Regions from separate parts of the Homo sapiens genome. Here region 2 is linked to region 1. The links come from fine-mapping of genetic effects on gene expression. Tissue or cell type: prefrontal cortex. Region 1 holds a variant in brackets; the other region holds the start of a gene. All regions are shown on one strand. Distances are from middle to middle.

Region 1 (10,322 bases):
CCTGGCGTGGTGGCTCACGCCTGTAATCCCAGCACTTTGGGAGGCCGAGGCTGGTGGATCACCTGAGGTCAGGAGTTCAAAATTAGCCTGACCAACATGGTGAAACTCCATCTCTACTAAAAATACAAAAATTAGCCGGGCGTGTATTTTTAGTAGGGATGGGGTTTCACCATGTTGGGAAGGCTGGTCTCGAACTCCTGACCTCAGGTGATCTGCCCATCTCAGCCTCCCAAAGTGCTGGGATTACAGGTGTGAGCCATTGCACCCAGCCGAAGTCTTTTTCTTTCTTTTCTTTTTTTTTTTTTTTTTTTTTTTGGAGACGGAGTCTGGCTCTGTCGCCCAGGCTGGAGTGCAGTGTTGCAATCTCCACCTCCCTGGTTCACGCCATTCTCCTGCCTCAGCCTCCTTAGTAGCTGGGACTACAGGCGCCCGCCACCATGCCTGGCTAATTTTTTGTATTTTTAGTAGAGACAGGGTTTCACCACGTTAGCCAGGATGGTCTCGATCTCCTGACCTCGTGATCCGCCTGCCTCTGCCTCCCAAAGTGCTGGGATTACAGGCATGAGCCACTGTGCCCGGCCGAAGTCTTTTTCTTAATGCACTATGAATACACAGTAAATACACACTATAAAGTACTATTTTTAAAACAGGATTTATTTGTTACATTATAAACTCAGCAGCACACAAAACCAAGTAGTGAATACATCTTTTTCCCCCCTTTTAAATGAGAGGCAACTTTTCATCTCCCAGTGCTCTTGGGGCCACAGAAAAGGGGGCCAGGTAGATGGAAGGACTCAGCACTCTGGGGTGGGGGGTGCTTCGGGGATCTAAGTGGAAGAGGTGATAGGGCCGGCGGTCAGCTCAGGGACTCCCCCAGTTGGGGTCCAGGGTCTGCTGGTGTATCTGTACCACTGCTGGGACTTTGGTAGTTCAGTGTTGTGCACATACAAAATGTATGCCTCTGTGAGGCACACGATGTAAGTGCTGAAGTTCTGTGCAAATTTATTAGCACGAACTGAAGGTACTGTCATTGTTTAACTCATCCGACCTTTTAAATGGATAACCAACCTTGAGGCTTAATTGGATTTAAAAAAAAAAAATCAATTTCTAGCCATTGCATAGTGTTAAAATGAAGTGCTGCATTCTCAGGCAATTGTAAAATCAGTTTTGCTCAGGACTATTTTTTATTATTTACCACTTTAAAATGACATTATCCATCTTGATAAGCATTTTATGTACACACATACCTTTCATAAACAACCACAAACGTACACGTACGTACACTGACTCACGTCACAAAAGAATCATTATTTTCTGTTGAGCAGCAGGCTGATTCATCAGCAGCAATCTCTTCACACCAATTACACAAAAAACTGAGCTGGGGATAATGACATACCACTGCTTGCAAATCTCTCAGCCTCAGCCAGTCTCATCTTTGTAATAAGAAAAAAATCCTTGAGGAAGCTTTTTACCAAATCGCATCTTGACCATTAAATCTTTCTTGAAGAAGGTCATTTAATTTTATGGAAAGAAATGAAAAATTAAAATGGCATAAGCAGAAATAGTCCTGATCTGGAAATCAGAAAACTGACGATTCTAGTTCTAGTCCTGTGGCCTTGGCAAGAGGGAAACTTGGGTCTCAGTTTCCCCCTCTGGAAAAGGGGGATGTTGGGATGGGGGGCGTTGTTCTCATTCCCCCACCGTTGATGAAAATGGAGGTCTATTATGGTGTTGTGCGTCAGAACACCAAGTTAAAACACGGACACACACACACACACACACACACAGAGACACACAAAACATTTGATCCTTCAGCACTTCCTCTGAGAAAAAGAGACCAAATGATGCATACGAGGGTCTTCTGCCTCCATTACAACATGTAATCATTTGGATGATTAGCTAAAAGCAATTATAGAATTATAGTTGACAAATTGAAAACGCTAAGCCCAGTGGTCTCTTGCAACTGAGCCTCATTTAAATGTGCATTGTGTTGAATGGAGCCTCATTTAAATGGTCCATCTTAGCCAGGTTACGGAACTGAAGTGGAGAACCACACAGTTACCCCGAGCATTCAGGACAATCCACAGAGCTAATTTGGACAATTGGACAAATGATTATTTTCTTTTGCCTCAACTGACCAGATAATTGTACACAAGTCTCTGCCATTTGACTCCATGGAATGTCTCTTTGTGTAGTAAGAAAGCCTGGCCATAGACTGGTACCATGACGTCTGCCCGAGGGTGGCATGGAGTTGGGGACAAGACACACGCAGCTGACACCCACCATCTAACTCCGAGTCCTAAATCAGAAGCACTTTCATACGTGCTAAAAGTCTCTGCTTGCACCCAGGGTTCTCATTAGTTCCTTCTAATACCCATCACTTGGGAGGAGGTTGTTTTCAAAACAGAATTAAAACCATCAGGCAGCAAGGTTAGAAGTGGCATCTGGGTGGTCAAGAAAATTAGTGTTTTTTTTTTTTTTGAGACGGAGTCTTGCTCTGTTGCCCAGGCTGGAGTGCAGTGGTGCAATCTTGGCTCACTGCAAGCTCCGCCTCCAGGGTTCACGCCATTCTCCTGCCTCAGCCTCCCGAGCAGCTGGGACTACAGGTGCCTGCCATAACGGCCTGCTAATTTTTTGTATTTTTAGTAGAGATGGGATTTCACCGCATTAGCCAGGATGGCTTGATCTCCTGACCTCGTGATCTGCCTGCCTCGGCCTCCCAAAGTGCTGGGATTACAGGTGTGAGCCACCACGCCCGGCTTTTTTTTTTTTTTAGACGGAGTCTCGCTCTGTTGCCCAGGCTAGAGTGCAGTGGCACAATCTCGGCTTACTGCAACCTCTGCCTCCTGGGTTCAAGCAATTCTCCTGCCTCAGCCTCCCTGGTAGCTGGGTTTACAGGCGTGTGCCACCACACCCAGCTAATTTTTATATTTTAGTAGAGACGGGGTTTCACTATGTTGGCCAGGCTGGTCTCAAACTCCTGACCTCAAGCGATCCACCTGCCTTGGCCTCCCAAAGTGCTGGGATTATAGGCATGAGCCACTGCACCCGGCCAAGAAAATTAGTTTTTAAGAGCTAATATACGCCAAGATATACAATTCTAGGCATGCATTTATGTGCATGCACAGTGCTAGGTTCTGAAATGTAGTTCATGTTGGATGAACCAGGCCTGCCTACCTAAATCTTAGAAGGAATGGAAACTTACCATAACTAATCGATGAATTAGAACCACAGAGAAGCAGGAAGTCTTTGTGATGAGCTGTCTTCTCTACACCCAACTAGGGACATCCCTTCTGTGAAAAGATCTCTCCACATGGTCCCACATGGCTTGACTAGAGTAAGGGATGCTGATCACAATTAAGGCCCCATGTAGAATGACATGCTATCCTATTAGATTTAGATAGAAATGGTGCTAGGCTAGGTAAATTTTGTTGTGGCTACGTAACTATGGCAGACGGACCAGGAAGGATTCTAGATTGCTCAAACGTTGGATCAGGATCAGACTTCTTATAGGATGGTTGCTAAATTTCACAGAGGAAATCCATATCCAGCCTGTTTACCTGCTGTCAAAGTGAGCATTCAAAGGGACACCCCAGTGGCTCCCCACTTCCAGGCCTCTTGGCAAGTCATGCCTCCAAGTCATTGGTGGCATCCTGCAGCTCTCCACTGACAGCAATGCTTCTGCAGACTGCGTCTGCATACTCTTGTAGTGCTGGTTCAAGACTGGGCCACCAAAGACTCAGCTGAGAACATAACCCAAGAGGTCACCAAAGAGGTGTTGCCGCCTTTATGTGGTCCCCTTCGGGATGGAGGATTTCTTCAATGTTATTAAATAGCATTGCCGGTCAGAATATTCTTGAACCCTATGGCAAACGTCTCTCCCTCGAGAGTGGATTTGATTCTTGGACAGAGCCAGTGGCCAACATGCGAGTTGGGGAAATGTAATTTCTTAACAAAAAACACGGTGAGAGTGCAAGAGGAGGAGGTTGTTTCTTTTGTGTGGTTTGTTGACAGGCTCTGAAGGGTTCTGCTGTTGAGTCGCCGCAACACCTCAGGACCAAACGCCAAGGGTGCCAAAGAGACCTGGCATGACAGCTGCTATTTTTTGTTTGTATAGGTTCTGGTGATGAAACCACATACCCCTACCATCACTCAGGTCCACATCTCCCACCAGCAAAACAAATGCATCAAAGTCAAGTTTCAGGACAAAGGTCCTCCTCGGAGGACCCCAGGACAGGCACAATCAAGGGGAAACATAGTCTTGGCTTTGAGTTAAACTGGCAGACACTTGTCTCTCAAGTTTTTGGTGTAACAGAGTAGGAAACAAAATCATTTAGAAAGTCAAGTCTCTTACAGCCTGTGTGTAAGAATTGCTTCTCAACAAGGCACATCACAGTTTTATTTGGAGATTTCCAAATGTTTCTTGGTATGTATATAAAGCATATATTTTCATAAGAAAAATACTTATCTGCCTTTTAGGCAGTTGTTCTTTTTGTATATCAGATAGTAAATAGATTGTCCCTTTGAAAGCATCCATTAGATAGATCTACTTTCGGACACTGAGGCAAAGGCCTCAGGCACAAAACAGAGTCAGGGGCCCAGAGGATCACAAAACTGGCCAAGCCCTCCCCTAACACAAATGCACTGGAAGAAAACATGAACCCATTGTTAAAATTAATACTAGGATTGCAGGATGTTCTTTAATCTGCGTGATTGCTTTATTGTACAAAAAGTTTCCAGTAACAGTAAATTGGTTTTAAAAAAGGACAAAAAAGTCATTTTGGATAGAAGTGCTTCACTAATTGCTTTATTTAAGCATACAAGAAAAAAAGTTTTATCTGACCAATTACGTTGGAAGGGTTTTATTACCTTTAAGAAGCCATTAGCTAGGATAAAACACTGAAAGCACTTGTGTCAAAACAAATAAATAATGTAAATAACGCTCTCTCAATTAGCAGAGAAAACAGTGAATCCGTTAAATCAGAGACACACATCACTTCACAAGCATGGCCCAGCCAGCACCACCACCCCCAAAACGAACAAAACAAGAGACAGCAGTTTTCAGTTACAATCTTGGGAAAGATCAGGAGCTTTGGAAAACGCGTGGTAAACATGTCTGTTTCTCCTTCTACCTCCACTCAACCTGAGCTGCACCCGGACACTTTAAAGGAGGCATGTGTCCAGAGGCTGCATCCAGGGATGCCCAGAGGGAGCCTGCCCTGCTAGGCCTCCTCTCAGAGGGCGCATCCCAGGCAGAGGAGACTGGCCTGGGTGATCGTTACCTCCACGGCCCAGTAGAGTGTGGAAAAACATGAGGTGCCCACAGACAATGGCTGCCAGCGAGTAAAGGGAAAGAAACCCTGAGGTACCATGATTCTTTTCTCTTACTTCCTCAAATGCTACTGATCTCTCCCCAAGTACAGGCTCAACAGAAAAATACAGTGGTTTGAGGACCCCAAGAAGTCAGCACACAGGCCAGGGGCCAGCTCCAGGCTGGGTCTGTCTCTCCCACCTTGGGAAACCCAGCGCTAAAACAATTTTTTTTTTTTTTTTTT[G/TTTG]AGACGGAGCCTCGCTCTGTCACCCAGGCTGGAGTGCAGTGGTGTGATCTCGGCTCACTGCAACCTCTGCCTCCCGGGTTCAAGCTATTCTCCTGCCTCAGCCTCTTGAGTAGCTGGGATTACAGGCGTGTCCCACCCGGCTAATTTTTGTATTTTTTGTAGAGACGGGGTTTCACCATGTTGGCTAGGCTGGTCTCGAACTCCTGACCTCGTGACCGCCTTGGCCTCTCAAAGTCTGGGATTACAGGCGTGAGCCACCGAGCCCAGCCCCTCCTTAAAACAGTTTCTAATCAGATCCGTTATTTTACCCAAATGGGTTGAGGGAACAAAAACCAACCCTCATCACCCTATTTGGTGAAAATAAATATAAAAAAAGATGATCCTCTCTTAAAGGGTCACTTTCCTTCAGGGGTTTGTAAGGCTCAGCACTTTAAAAAGCTTGAACAGAAGTCCGGTATTGCCACTGTGGACTGTTTTTGAGGCAAGTTCCCTAATGTGGACAGCCCCACACCTAAGAGCAGCAGATCTAACTTGGAACGTCTCAACCATGGGTTAAAATCAGATGGGATGAAAGAACACCTGCAGTGACTCTCAACAGCTACGGAAGTCTCACATTGCAGGGCTGACTGATGAGGTGCTGGCTTCTTATTCTCCGGCCCTCTTTCCTAAGCAATGTTTGTCAGGGAATACCAGGTCCGCTTCCTGAAATGCCAGGGCCCCTCTAGGACCTTATCATTCCACAGCCACATCAGTAATAGGAAAACCACCAATGGCTACCTGGAGGTGGCACCAACTTGGAAAGGGAAGGCTGGGCAGGGGTTTGGACACTAAGCCCATGAGCTGTTTGGACAACTTCAATCTCTGGAATTGAGTTTAAATTTCTGTAAACAACTTTAAAGTCAACTCTAGAGAGACATTTTGTGTGACTGGTCCAAATAAAACAGCACATTTAATGAGGTCATATTCTTCTTAAACTTTTTAAGAGAAGCAAAAACAATGGAAAAGCCATTAAAATTTACACAAAGACCATTAAAACTCTACTAGTGTCAATTAAAACAAAGCCAATAAAACATGAACAACTTCAAAGTTACCATCACTTTCCACACTGTTCTACAGTTATAGGAATATATTCAAGCACCATATTGATAATAGGTAGGTAAACGATGAAGTCCTACTTTGGCGGTCTGACCCACGCTCACACAAACGAGGAGCTTCCTAGTCAAGATGCCCCCAGTCCTTGGCAATGTGCCTGCTTCCTGGGCATTGCTCAGTGGCAATGGAAGAGCCAATAAATCAAATCGCTGGTGGAATATTTTACTTTGAAATGGAGTGATGTTTGGTTAATAATTTGAGATCCACTAATCCTAAATGGGGTGACCCATTTAAAATGGCCTCTGTGTAAATTCACAGTTCATTAAATAGAGTCTGGTTTGAACAGGTCATTATGTAGTTAGTATATAAGTAATGGATTGAGCAAGGATGGCTGGGGATACCCATGGGGACACACTGGCTGAGTCTGGTGGCTTTCATAACACTGTCAAGCTTTCTTTTAATGTGAGATTCATTTAAATCACCAACTTAAATTTAGGTGGTTTTGCTTAGTAACCTCTTTTGGTTTACAGTAGAAAATGCAGTGCAAAAATTTTAAATGAGGAATATTCCATTTACAATTAATTTAAAACTTATGAAGCTGTTTTAACTGGCCCATCTAAATGTGTTAATTAACATCAATGATGGTTTCTTATTTTTCACACTTTGTTACTCTGATCATTAACAGTGATGGAAAAGCTAAATTAAGTTAATGGGGAACGGATTATAAATTCTTAAAGGACTTCTTAGTTTGTTTTCAACTGGAAAATATATAGAGAAAGATGAAGGGGCATTTTTGCCTCTACTCATCAATTTTTGGTACCAAATTTCTTAAAAACCAGATGGTTTAAAGAAAATTTTTCCAAAAATTATGTTAACATTCTGCTCAGACATGGCTGCTAAAAAAATAGCATATACACATATAATACTGAACAGCTTCTGCAGTGCCTGTAAACTCTCAGCTCATTTTCTCTTTCTAAAAAAAATATATATTATAACTGATCCCAGAACTCAATCTCTATTGTGCAGCAGTATCAAAGGTCCTTAAATTCTCAACAATGAAGGAAAAACAAAAACCCATTCCCCGGACCGCTTGAGCAGGACTAGGGAAGGAGGAGTCCGTGGATGCAAAGGTTCGCTGCCCCGACGCCCTCAGATTCCTCGAGGCTGCACCTCTGCGGGCAGCTGGCGGGGCGCAGGCCAAGCCCCTCACACCCGGGAGATCCACACGCGCGGCACACACGAAAACCCAATGCCACTTATCGAGACTTCACGCCAACGAGGACAACAATGAGCACAATGATGATGACAAATAATATTAAAATCACAAGCATCTTCCGATTCTTCTTTTGATACTGTTCTGCCTACAAAAAGAGGAGGGAAAAAAGGCCGTCATTTTCCCCAAAATCCCAAATCAAGTCCCACTCGTTTCCAGAATGAGGCTTCCAGATCTCTCTGCACAGTGACTGAGGTCTCTGCTACAGGCTACATGATTGTAATCCCTCCAATCAATCCCACGGAATTCAATCACCAGGAGTGGAAGAGCCCCATGATCCTGGTGCTGCTTATTTACCCTGGACGTGGAAATGGATTTGTTGGAAACCTACTACTAAGACAAAGCCTGACAGGGAAGTGAAAGCTCATGCTTCCGGGTGCAGCTGGGCCTGCTTCTCCCGGCTTTTCCTCCTGCAGGCCGTGGCAAGTGCCCCTGCAGCACGGGTCGCCTGTTCCCGGTCCGTGTTCCTGGAGCGAATGCACAGTTCCTTCACCGCGGAAGGAAACAACGGGCTGGAGGACCGTACCTGGCAGGTAGGCAACAGACACCCGGAAGAGGCCCCATTTCGACCTCCCCTAAATTTGGAAACAAAAACTCATCCTTTGAAATAAAAACAGACACGTGTGCCCCATGGATGTCATATGCAGAAAGATCCCTCTGAGGCGCGTCCTCCCAGTGCCGCTAACGATACAGCAAAGGAGCCCTCCAAGCTCAATCTGGGGACGAGGCTGCACCCTGCACATCTCTTCACCTTAACACCGCATCCTGGAAGCTCGGCAGGAGCGGGAACTCCATCATGCCTGCTAGAGAAATGCCAAAGGGCCCCACCTGGCTGGCGAAAGACGCAGAGCACTGAGAAAGGAGAGCCAGAGGACAGCAGAGTTCAGAGGGCGCCGGGAGGCACGTCCAGGGAGAGCATGCGCTGCCTCTTCCAGACCTTGCTATGGCACAGGAGGGAGGAGGAGACAGCGGGAAGGCAGCCCTGGCGAGAATGGCAATCTCTCCTGCTCCATCCCCCGCGGTGGGCTTGTTTCCTAAGTGAGCCTGCCCGCCCACCTGGAGGAGCCCCTCATCCACCAGGAGGAAACATCAGGCACGGGGACAGCACCGAGAGTCCGGTCATGGGGAGCAGCTCCCGACGCTCAATCACCCTTAGACTAGCCGACTGCCGAGCACGCGCGTGCTGCCTACAGCCTTGTGGCTGGAGGGAAGATGGAGCACGCTGACTTTTCTAATAAGTAACCCAGAACACCAGGGAAGCCAATACTAAATAATATACTGTAAAACCTCTCAAAATGATTTATAAAGTAGAACCTAAAACAAAATTTTTAGTTCCCACTAGATTTGCTCACTCCCGCAGAGAAAGCTTTTCCTTTTATCTGTGTTATATTACAAAACATATTTCACTAGTTTTTATTTAAGAAACTTCAAAACCAATGCATAATTCAGCAGCACATCAAAACCTGGGTATTACAGAGTGAGAAACTTAAGTTAGTTTTCACTTTTAATAGACAGGGCTTGGCAACCAAATTAATCTAAATGCTTAAAAAAACCCTGCATAGACAAGGTCAGACTTCTCTTCCCACCACAGGCTGGAGTCTCATATCCACCTACACATGGCAACAAGCCCCCTGAAAAGACAGCTCAGGGCTTCTGGTTAGACTAGTGCAAGGGCTGACTTTTTGTAAACCCAATACTGCTATTAAATGGGGCGATCTCTGGTATAGGAAGCGACTGATTTCAGAAAAATGGTAGAGTAGTCCAACAGTGAATTGGCAAAACACTCATTATATGGCTAGAAACTCCACTGGGTCTCAAAGATACAAGGAAATGGATATTATTTAATTTGTGAAGTATTGTTATATTCCTTTTAAAGAAAATACGTAACCAATTATATATGAGAGTCTCAGCCGTTTATGCATGTTTCTTATAACCGATAAGATTCCTAAGATGCTTTCCATCTATTTTTTTAAAAGAGAATATCATAAAAACATCCCTGAAACAGCTACCTTATTAGCACAGAATAAAAGAATTACTACTCTCACTTCAACAAACTTCTCTTTTCTCAAGGTAATACAGATATGCTGTGGTAATTAAAGAGAAGATTAGATTTTTATCTTCTGCAGAATGATTCTCCATCAGCAATTCATCAGGAATGTATCACAAGAGAGGCCCAAGTCAACGGCAACAAGCAGACAGATTTTCAACACATATTTTAGCAAATGCCCAATTGATTTCCTAAAACAAGAAGCATTAGAAAAGAATGAAATATTTTCTAAAAGAAAGAACTCCAATCTCTTTAGAATTTACTGTCACAAAAAGGAGTTCTTAGCAATTTTGGATTTAAGTGTGAGATACACCTGGAATCATTAACTGCAATAAAACGGCAACAGCCCCCACAA
Region 2 (10,322 bases), 28 kb after region 1:
CAATTATAGATTATGCATTATTTTAAAGCAGAGTATAGATTAGGCAGTAAACACTAACAAAGTAGCTCCAACCCCTATATTAGATCCATTCCCGGAGATCGAAGGAAACCACACAAATCCATACAGAATTTCATCAGATCAGAAGAGCATCTCAATATCTACCTTTCATTCATTTCTTTATGACTTTACAATTTGTTTTGAATAATTGTTTAGCTTCATAAATCCATTTCAGTTTCCTAAAGCCAAGCTGCTTGAATGAGTTGCTACCTTAAAACCTGCACTTGGCTGGCATAATAATGTGAAAGTTACTTTTGCACAGTACTGGGGCTACTTCTAAGGATTTCTGTCAGTAACCTTGGACTGACAGCTACAACACTGTTGACTATGAATTTCTCCTTTTCAAATTAAAGCTAAAGTCAGGAGAAACAATGTATTAAAACAGAACTTGAGAAAATACTGTTGAATCGATAGGGCTGCTGGAAATCACCTAACCCAAACCCCTCAGTTTACAAATGAGGCAAAAAATGTCCGAAAAGATTAAAGGCTTGCCTAAGGACACACTCTGAGCCTGCAGCAGAACAGGACTTAGGCCTCAATTCTCAGATTCAATTCTCAGTGCTCTTTCCTTTATTTCATGCTGCCCTGAGGCATGAACGTGATGGGGCACTCAAAACTGAGGCCAAAGTAAAATGCATGGGAAATACGACTGTATTTTGTTAGGAGTGCATAAAGTCAAACCTGTCTGTTTTTTTACAATTAGTTTTACTAACTTTAATACAACTAAGAACACAAAAAAGTAGAATTTTGCTCAGTTCTGGATGCTGAAATCTAAAAAGGATACAGAAAAACTAAACATCATTTATAGGAAAAAAGCATAACCACTCTGAGCCGGGAATGCTAGGCCTGGAAAGAATTCTGGGTAACAAGGCTGCAGGGTTACCAGACAGAAGGAAGACCCGAAGGAACAGAACTAAAAGCAGGACCCCAGGACACAAATAGTTGGGATTAACAGGCAAAGACTTTTTAGTGGTAAAAATCATGGAGCTGCTGGCATTTTCCATCATTGTCATACACCATGGCCAAATAAGATAGGCATGAGGGGTTATCACAAATGGGGACATTAGGCCAAATGACCTTTAGGTTCCTTCTGGCCCTTGAGGCTTTGTGTTTATCTGGTCACTGCGTATCCTCCTTAAATTCCTGTTTATTTGACATATTTGCCTGAATGCTGCAAAACCCTGTATGCACGCACAGGGACACACAATAACCCCACTACAACAACCAAATTCTAGTTTTTTCCCTCAAACTAGGATGCAAAAAATGCATGTTTAAATTTTTTGAATGGCATGGCTTTAGGTGTGCTTTGCTTTGAGGTGTATGATACACACTACTCTGCAATTAATTTCTGCAGCTTTTTCCTGAAATAAGATGTCAAAATTCAGGATTACAATTTTTTTTTTAAAAAGTCTGTTATTTTAGGTGTATTTTTAGTTGGTATCAAATGCATCAAGATCAAAGTCTACAGCTTTTTCTTCTAATTGGAAACTTAAAATTCCAGGTTATTATTTTTTAAATTAAGTTAAACTTAGGTTTAATTTCTTCCTTTCAAATTGCCTGAGTGTTAGACATGTATTTACAAATTGCCTCTTTTTAACTGTTTTACTTTACTATAACAAATATACTTACTTTAAGTTTCTATTTAAAAATTTTCAAACATGCAGAAAAGCCTACAAAATGGTAAAATGTCGCACACATACTCATCACTAGACTTAACAATGAGTAACAATTTGCCTTATTTGCTTCCTCTATTTTTGGAGGGGTTTAAGGACTTAGGTAAGATGCCTTGACATTTCACCACTAAACATTTCAGTAGGCATCTCTAATAAAATTAGCAAATGTAATGTATTATAATTAATTCCTTAATGTCACCTAATACCTAGTCCATATTCAAAATTTGACAGATACGATTTTGTTTGGTTTGCTACATGGCTTTGAAATTTACAAGTCAGAAACAAGGCTTTAAATTTTTTGTGAGCTAGATATGCAGTGAAAAGCATTGCTAAGAGTTACTCAATAGATTTTACAAATTGTGTTAAACATGGCTTTTGCTTCAAAATGTTTATAAAGCTTTTCCAACTTCCAGAAAAGTTGAAAAAATCATAACCTCTATTTAGTCTTGTTAGCATTTCGCCGTACTGTGTGCAGAATAGATTTTGTTACGAATCACCTGTAAGCAAAGTGAAGATGTAACACTTCAACCCTAAATACTTCAGAAATTTATGACATGCCATTTTTTAACACAATTAAAATATATAAATCTGTGTTTTATTTTTAAATTTGAATTCAGGCAAACTATGTTTGTTAGACTGCAAAACCTATTTTTGAGATAGTATGGATTGACTATAAGGATATTTTAAATGATATGACTGCTTTCAATGATCTGAGAAAGATTTTAAATGGTCAGACTAATATAAATATTAACATTTTCAATGGTATGACATTTAGAAAACATTTTTTAACGTTCTTAGAAATGTATTTTTAGTTGGGTTTAGAAATCTATTTTCAAAAAACTGTGAGTTAGCTAAATGTATCTGTATATACCCTGACATATCTATTTTTCCAAACTGTATACGTTAACTATCCATTTTTAATTATTCTGCTTAGCTTAAATATTTTTTAAAATTGCCTAACTTAGAAAATAATTTTCTAAAGTGGTCTGATTCAGAGATGCACTTTTAAAAAGCTTCCCGTCTCAGATACTAGGTTTTTAAACTGTCTGACTTAATCGGGAAAAAAAAAAAAACCCTCATGTTACCCAAAGGTTCAGGGTATTTTGAACCTTAATGATTAAAAATTGAAAAATAAACAATATGTTTTTCAATTAAAACTGATACCTTAGAAATCTTAATATGAGTTTCAGTAGTTTTTGAGGCAGCACAAAATCAAGTCATTTAAGGAACATGCAGTTCTTATTTAACATTACTGAAGTTCCATTAAGGAATTGAATTCATCCAATTTCTACTCGATTTCTTGGATTATTTCTTCTTCAAAATTAGCGCTAGAATTAGCCTGTTTCTATGCTACCAGACATCTTTACATTTATTTCAATATAATGTAATTCCTTTCCGTTTATAAATGTAAAAAAAACCCTTCAACTTCTTAATTAACTGAAATCTCACACACACTCTGTCCCTAGTTCTAGGCTGTTTGACCTGAGTTTACATGCTTTTATTCCTGAAACCGCTCACACGGCTTAAAATGACTTTTCTATCAGTTATATGGCCAAAGACATTCTCCACCTGTGACTTACAAAAAGGAGAAACTGTCTTTGTAGACATGATAATCATGACATATGGCAAAATTTTCCTGAAGCATTTAGATAAAGCCATAAAGAAAAAAATAAACTGGCAATACAGTCCCTAAGAGGTGAAATGAATGTTCCAAAATTGCCTAATATCAAGTATAACCCCCAAGAATGTGGTCCTGGGATGGCTATTTCCCGCCTGTTCCAACGCTGCTTCTATTCCAACCTAGTCTGCCTACAGCAGGTAGCCTGAACTACAGCCAGTTTCATAACTTCACTTTTCAATTGAAGACATTACAGAGCTAACGATCACTGTCTGGTATAGATCATCCAGACTCGCCCCTTATTTAACAGAGCAGTAAACTGAGGCTCAGAAAGGGAAAAGTAGCCCCCATTAAAAACAAACCCCAAACAGTAATTTTTCCAGGACCACCCTTAAAAAACGCTACTGCTAGGCTAACTAAAGGTTGTGGTTAATTAAAAAAAAAAAGTGCTATTTTACGGGGTTAATTTTCACATATACCTCCTCAGGCTTTTTTTAAAAAGTTCGAATGGAGAGGAAAGCTTAATTTCCTGTCTGGGAAATGGAAAGTGAAGAGGCTAGCACCTTGAGTCTCACAAACGCAAGCCCCCAGGAAGAACAGTGAGGCAATTATTCACAGGGAACAAGGCCACACAGAGGGCTGCGGGGCCGTTAAAAGAAAACGGGCGGAAAAACAAAACAAAACAAAACAACAACACAACTCCCTCCTCTTTGAGGGGAGGGAGTCGTTCATTTTGCAAGGATTTGGGTCTACGATCCGGCGACCCAGCCCTTAGGACCAAACTGAGGCTCATTACTGGGGGGAGGGGAGCTTCAAACAAAACGAAACAAAAAGGCTTCAGAAAGGCCCAATGCTTCCCAATGTTAGCGTTAAAACATATGTAAATTACAGGCGGCCTGTAGCGCAGTGACGCCAAGGCGGGGGGTGCGGGGGGGGGGGTGCTGCGGAAGTGAGGAGAAGACCGGGCAGAGGTGGAGCTGCGGCCTCACAGCACCGCTTCTTCCTCATCCAGGGCTACAGATGCCCCCTGACTCTAGCCAAGAGATCTTATTATTCTTAGTCTTATTATTCTTATCTTCTCTTTTTAAACAGAGAGACAGACAGAGACAGACAAACAGGCAGAGCCGCAGTGCACACGGTCCGTGTGTCGGAGAGGCCGCCAGGAGACTCACCGCAGCAATGCTACGTGAATGCAGAGGGCTGGAGGTGATGTGACTACTCACTTGCTCGGCTAACAGCTGCCGGTTTTGGATGGAATTATTCCGCAACAACAAGAAAGCGTCGGTTAAACGCCTGGTGGCCATGTCTCACCCTTTGCGACCCCCCTCTCAGGGGCCCCCCGCCCACTTATATTCCTGATTTATTCACTTTCTTTCTCGTGGCCCGGCTGGCCCACCCTTTCACGGAAGCTTCTCGACAAGGCCTCAGGCCTCAAGCCAAAAAGATGCAGCTGTGCGCTTCGCCAAGGCGTAGAGACCCCTCCCCAAATAACTACCTAGGCTTTCCAATTGTCTGACTCCCCCTACCCAGGGCAGACTTCGATCTCTAAGCACTTGAATCCCCCCAATCCTTGCGTAGCGATCCAACGTCCCAGAGACCCCACCCCAATCCAACCTTGGATCTACAAGCGTCTAACTCGCCAATCCGGCTCTAGACTGGGAGGCCCTGAAGCCCCCTACTCCCTGAGACCCCCCGGAGGTCTCTGCTCTCTACCCCTAACTTTGGCTCGTAAGCGTCTAGGCCGTGCCCTGAGGTCTGGCTGTGACTCAGTTTCCGCACCAGAGGCCTGGCCTAGGCCCTCTTTGGACAACCGGAGCCAGGCTTGGGGCCTGGACTCGAGGGCGCCTGCAGCTCCCTTCTGGGGACTTGTCTGAACCTGCTGAGGCCCTGCCCGACCTCCTGACCCCTTCCTTTCCTGGACGGCCTGGTCCTCCACTGCCAGCAGGCTGCCGGCCTGCAGGAAGACAGCAGGGCCTGCCTCCCCGGCCTTCTCACTCCTCTTCTCCGGCTCCCTCCATCCCCGGATCTGACTGCAGCTCAGCCCCGGACCGTTTCCGTGCTGTGGTCCCGGGTTCTGGCGTTCCCCCCTGGCCCTCTTCCTGTCCGTCCCTCGCGAGTGCCCCCCTGCGACGCTCGCAAGCCTTGCTCGCAACGTTCCGGGCGCGGGAGCTCCCTGCACTCCTGCCCCGGGGCACGGGAGTGCTCCGCCCTCTCCCGGGGTGCTCCTCGGGCGCCCTGTTTCGCCTCCCCCAACTGGGTCCAGGCACTAGGAGCAGGCCAACGAGCAGGCCTGAGCCTGGGGAGCGTGGCCCCCAGGCTGCAAACCGCTGCCAGGGCCCTTGGTCGCTGAATTAGAGTGGAAGTTGCGCGGCAGGCAAATTTGGGCTCCCCAAGAACTGAAGTTTTGGGCGCGGGGAGTTGGAGCGGGAGAGGAAAAGTTGGAGACGACTGCCTCTGCAGGCCGAGCACGCTCTACTGCAGGCGGCGGCGCTCGCTTTTTTTTTTTTTTTTCCCACTCTGGAAAAAGATGTATCCGACAAACAACCACGAGGAAATAAAAGGAAAAAAAAAAAAAAAAAAGGAACAAGAACTCCAGGCAGCCTGGCCGCGCCGCCGCTGGCAGTCGGGGGTCGTCGGGGGCGCCCGCCCTCCCCAGCTGCCGCTTTCTGTAGGGGGCACTGCAGGGTCGTGGAATCTCAAGTGGAAAAGTTCCCCGAAAACTTTGACACCTCCCACCCCCCTCCCCGCGAAAAAAATCTCTGTTCCCTGCCTGGGCCCTGGCCCTGCGACCCCCGCGCCCCCCCGTGCCCCGGGCCGGGTTTTCCACGGTTGGCCGGGCCCAGGGCGCCCTAAGCACCTCGACTTGCCGCCCCGGGCCAGGTCGGCGGGGTTCGTGCAGGGGCTCCGTGGGGCCGCGTCGGGCAGGGGCCGCCCGGGCCCGAGCACGGCACCCACAAACAGGCTGGCGTCCCGCGACGGAGACCCGGGTCCGGCCCGGAGCCGCCCGGGAGGCTTGAGGCCAAGGGCCTGGCCCAGCGCGCGGCCGGAGCGGGTCGGGGGCGCAGAGCTGTGCGGCGGCGCCTTCCGGGCCCCGGGCCTGTGCAGGGCCGGCTTCCCCTTGCGGGGCGAGGCTGCGGGCCGGGCTGCGGTGCGGGGTTCCAACAAAGGACCGAGGCCCCAGAAGCGGCCCCCACGCGTCCTTTGTTTCTGCGTGGAACAAACTTTACACACGTGTGTGTTTTCCGAGGGTTTCCCGTGTGCTGAGCGCTTGCAAAGCGGAGTCGCGCCCGGGGAGACGCGAAGCCGGTGCCCGCGGCTCACCCAGGGACCCCAGCCAGACAGCGGCACCCGCGGGGCGCGTGCGGGACCCCCAGGCGACCGGGGGAAGCACCGGTAACCGCCCCCCACCCGTGCTTTTTCTCTCACGGAGAATGTTCCCGCGCGTTCGTTGTGCAACTAAAAATTAATGTGAAACATCCATTGAGGCAAATAACAAAATGCATCCAACGAAACCCACATAAAATCGAGAGAGCCGCGAGCAGGGCTGGGCGAGTTCACTGTGAGGACCGGCTCTGGCTTCCGCGCAGCGCGGAGAGCAGGGCGCTCGCCCGGGGACGCTTCGCAGCGGTGGAAGATTCGGGCGACAGGGGACTGGGTCGCCGCGCGGGCCGGGCTGGAGGCTGCAGGGACTTGCTGACAGGCCATCCAAAGACAGAGAGGCCCTGGGGAGGGAAATTCGGGGAGCCCGTGTGCTTAGCGTAGCGCCCCGGGAAATATTTGCCCAATAAGGGAGAGTTTGTCCCCACACTGCGGCAGAACCCCCCTGCGAGCTCTGACCCCAGCAGCACGGCCAAGCCCCCCCAACCCCGCTCCCCCCTTTAGGGGACAGGTATTTGTAAATAACAACTGAGCTGGTCGTCGGTAGGAGAATCAGATTAGAAACATGGTCCCCACTCTCTTCCTATCTCCCCAGCACTCATCACCTCACAAAGCAGGGGGGGACCTGTTTACTTTTCCTGGCGCTCTCCCCCAGGCTAGAACGTGATCTTCTTCCTACGCAGGGACAGTGTTTTATTCATCTTTGTACCCACTGCCATCTCATCTGGCTTGGAACAGGCTCCGGATAAATATTTTTTAAATATGTGCATGAATTAATGAGAGACTCGAGATTTAGTCCCCAAACTCTCTGACCTCCCTCGAGTGACTTTAAGCCTTTAGAGCCCTTATCTGTTAAGAAAAAAAGAAAAAAATGTGGGTTTTTCGTAATCCTCGTAATCCGCGCCCTGTCTACTTCTCTGGGGTTATTGTGAAGATCAAATAAGGTAAGTGAAAACTCTTTGTAAACTACCAGGTGCTGAGCAAATATTATATAGGATGGTTATTCATTCATTCCCTCCGTTCAGGAAGCTTAGCAAAGTAATTCCTGGTCTTGTGTTTCAGCAGATGGTGGTCGCCTTTCCTGGTCAGTCTTAAATATTTATTACAGGACAATCTCATTCTTACATTTAGGAGATCAATCAAGCTTCCATTTCTTTGAGCGAAATGAACACTGCTTGCACACAAATAATGGAAGAAAAATCCTGGTATTCCCAAAACAGCCACCCCAAGCAACCCAAGAGCCTAACAGCGGGGAGGTCAGGAAAATCCAAGAAGTTGGCATAGCAGCCCAAAGGCAGCACCGTGCAGCTCTGACCAGGCCCCAAAGGCAGCACCGTGCAGCTCTGACCAGGCCCCAAAGGCAGCACGGTGCAGCTCTGACCAGGCCCCAAAGGCAGCACCGTGCAGCTCTGACCAGGCCCCAAAGGCAGCACCGTGCAGCTCTGACCAGGCCCCAAAGGCAGCACCGTGCAGCTCTGACCAGGCCCCAAAGGCAGCACCGTGCAGCTCTGACCAGGCCCCAAAGGCAGCACCGTGCAGCTCTGACCAGGCCCCAAAGGCAGCACCGTGCAGCTCTGACCAGGCCCCAAAGGCAGCACGGTGCAGCTCTAAGCAGGCTGTGTTTAGGTATGGGATTGTGTGCCTGAAATAGTGTTAACCAAGAGGGAGCCCAGAGAGGGCATGCACCCCTGGCTCCAGTCACGTCCATGGTCCATGTTCGCCCTGACCCACACTGGAAGGGAGTTGGGGAAGGATGTAAATCATTATATTTGAATGTTCCTTGGCTGTTTTATTTTCCTGTCAAGTGACTTAAGCTTGATTTTTTTTTTTTTTTAAAGCATTCCCCCATGGCCAAGTATGTGTTTCCTTGGAATTGAAATCTAGGTTGATGGTTTTACATTTTAAAAGCTTTCATTGTGACTCATTCTTGGCCTGGGCTAGGATTCGGTAATACTCCTCGGGCTTGGTGAGGCTCCGTGTCCTGTTTCTTGGGCTTCATACCCACTTTCTAACATTCTGCCAACGAATCCAATAAGTCACTTTTGGGGACAAGTGTTTCATTGTTTTCTTGTCATCTCATTCAGTGCAGGAGGAAGCCCCATTGAAGCCAGGCCATGGCTTGGGCAGGTGCAGGTTTTCAAGTACTGAGAGGGGATGGTTAGCTCAACAGGTCAGCAGTGGGACACACACCCTTTGGTGAAAACAATTTAAATGAGATAGGGCTCATGTAAGCCCTTATACAACCTCAGCATAGAGTAAGTGCGCCACAAATGGGCAATATGATTTATTACAGCAGTAGTCTTACTGTTGGAAAGCTCACGTGGGCTCTGCTCTCCCTGGAAGGCATCATAAACTCCAAAGAGAATGGCATGGTATTGAGAACTGAACACTTGGAAATCTAAGCACGTTTCCGAGCTTCTTGTTCTGGACCTTGGGAATCCAGATGTGTCTGCAGTGCACACTCATGTGGAAGAGGGGGCTAAACCATCTCAAAGACACCTTTTAACATTGGTCTTTCTCCCACCTATAGAAAGACAGATGGTTGTTTGCTTATCAAGCAGCAAAAGCCCCCAGGCCTAACATATGTCTCGTCTGCACAGATCTGACAGACAGATTCGGGCCAGGTTCGGGTAACAGGAGTTGTGTGTTCTGTGTCCCCAAATAGTTCCTCAAAACCTTGAGTATTTCCAACAACAGAAAACTCCCTATCTGGGTCTGTCTTCAGCTATGATGCCTCTCCCAAGAAGGGAGACTCTGGAGAGAGGCAACACTTTTGTTTTGTCTGGAGTCCCGTAGCTTTTAATACCAGACAATTCAATACAGTAGGCATTTCTAAAAATCTACCAGTGGCTGTGCCTATCTCTTGCCAGGCACTGCTGAAAGAATGAAACAGCAAAACTCTTGCCTTCAGGGAATTTGCATCTCCACTGTCTCTACCCAAATTCTGGTTCTCATCGTGTACATTTTCCCAGCAGCCTGCTAACAACCACCCGTCTCTTCCCTCCTCATCCTGCAGCCACAGTGACCTTTCCAAAGCATAAATCTGATCATGTCACTGCCTGATTGAGGCCCTGAAACAGCTCCCTCTGGCCCATGCCAGCCGATCTCAAATGACGCTCAGCAGAAAACAGGTGCTCTAAGTTGAACCAAGCTGGGCATCACTAATATTAACTAATGATGGACTTTTCTTGGTTGTCAGAAAAAAAAAAATGAAGCTAATTAATGGAGTAGTCTCCATCTTAAGTGTTTCTCTTCTCGCTTTCTCTTAAACCTTCAGTCCCTGCCACCACTTGGCTGTATTAGAATATAGTATAAGACTAGATCTGATTTATTCCAGAATCATGGATTTCAGTACAATTTTTTTCCCATAGATCAGTATTTCCTGGAGTTCTGCATTTAGGTTTTCTACACTTTCCACATGGCGGAGTGCCCCCTGGGCATTCAAAGCCCTGCCCAACAGGCCCCACCTAAATGGTGAGCTTTTTTCTTTCCAGGACTTGGCTCACAGGCCTTTCTCTGCCTGGTGGGGGTAGTGGCGGGGGATGTGTCTTGCCCCTTCTGCTTGGTGAACCCTTCATTGAAGACAGCACCCCCTA

Alleles and levels. Positions count from the first base shown, and alleles are read on the strand shown. Sizes are in standard deviations (SD) of each study's normalised expression.
With allele G in place of TTTG in region 1, the expression in prefrontal cortex of the gene that starts at base 5,376 in region 2 is lower (small effect, 0.29 SD a copy in ROSMAP).

Evidence for each region. PIP is the estimated chance that this variant, and not a neighbour inherited with it, causes the effect.
Region 2: STX16 starts here. The variant in region 1 is fine-mapped to the expression of STX16 in prefrontal cortex (ROSMAP, PIP 0.90).

What each region holds. Positions count from the first base shown.
Region 1 is chr20:58,673,873-58,684,194 of GRCh38, reverse strand. STX16 (syntaxin 16) reads right to left here. Exons shown (of 9, transcript NM_001001433.3): 9 at 4,669-8,008. The coding sequence ends at 7,904. All of the region lies in intron 8 of STX16-NPEPL1 (STX16-NPEPL1 readthrough (NMD candidate)), which reads right to left. Among named protein-coding and RNA genes, the nearest start is that of NPEPL1, 14 kb to the left of the region's middle. RefSeq lists enhancers at 7,318-7,842, 7,843-8,368. The variant G/TTTG (reference allele first, on the strand shown) is at 5,556.
Region 2 is chr20:58,646,337-58,656,658 of GRCh38, reverse strand. It overlaps STX16 (syntaxin 16), which reads right to left and starts at 5,376. Exons shown (of 9, transcript NM_001001433.3): 1 at 4,521-5,376. The coding sequence starts at 4,652. STX16-NPEPL1 (STX16-NPEPL1 readthrough (NMD candidate)) reads right to left here and starts at 5,406. Exons shown (of 23, transcript NR_037945.1): 1 at 4,521-5,406. LOC107985410 (a long non-coding RNA gene) reads left to right here and starts at 7,024. Exons shown (of 3, transcript XR_005647058.2): 1 at 7,024-7,670. RefSeq lists enhancers at 4,007-4,510, 4,348-4,617, 7,647-8,184 and silencers at 6,114-6,473, 8,872-9,166.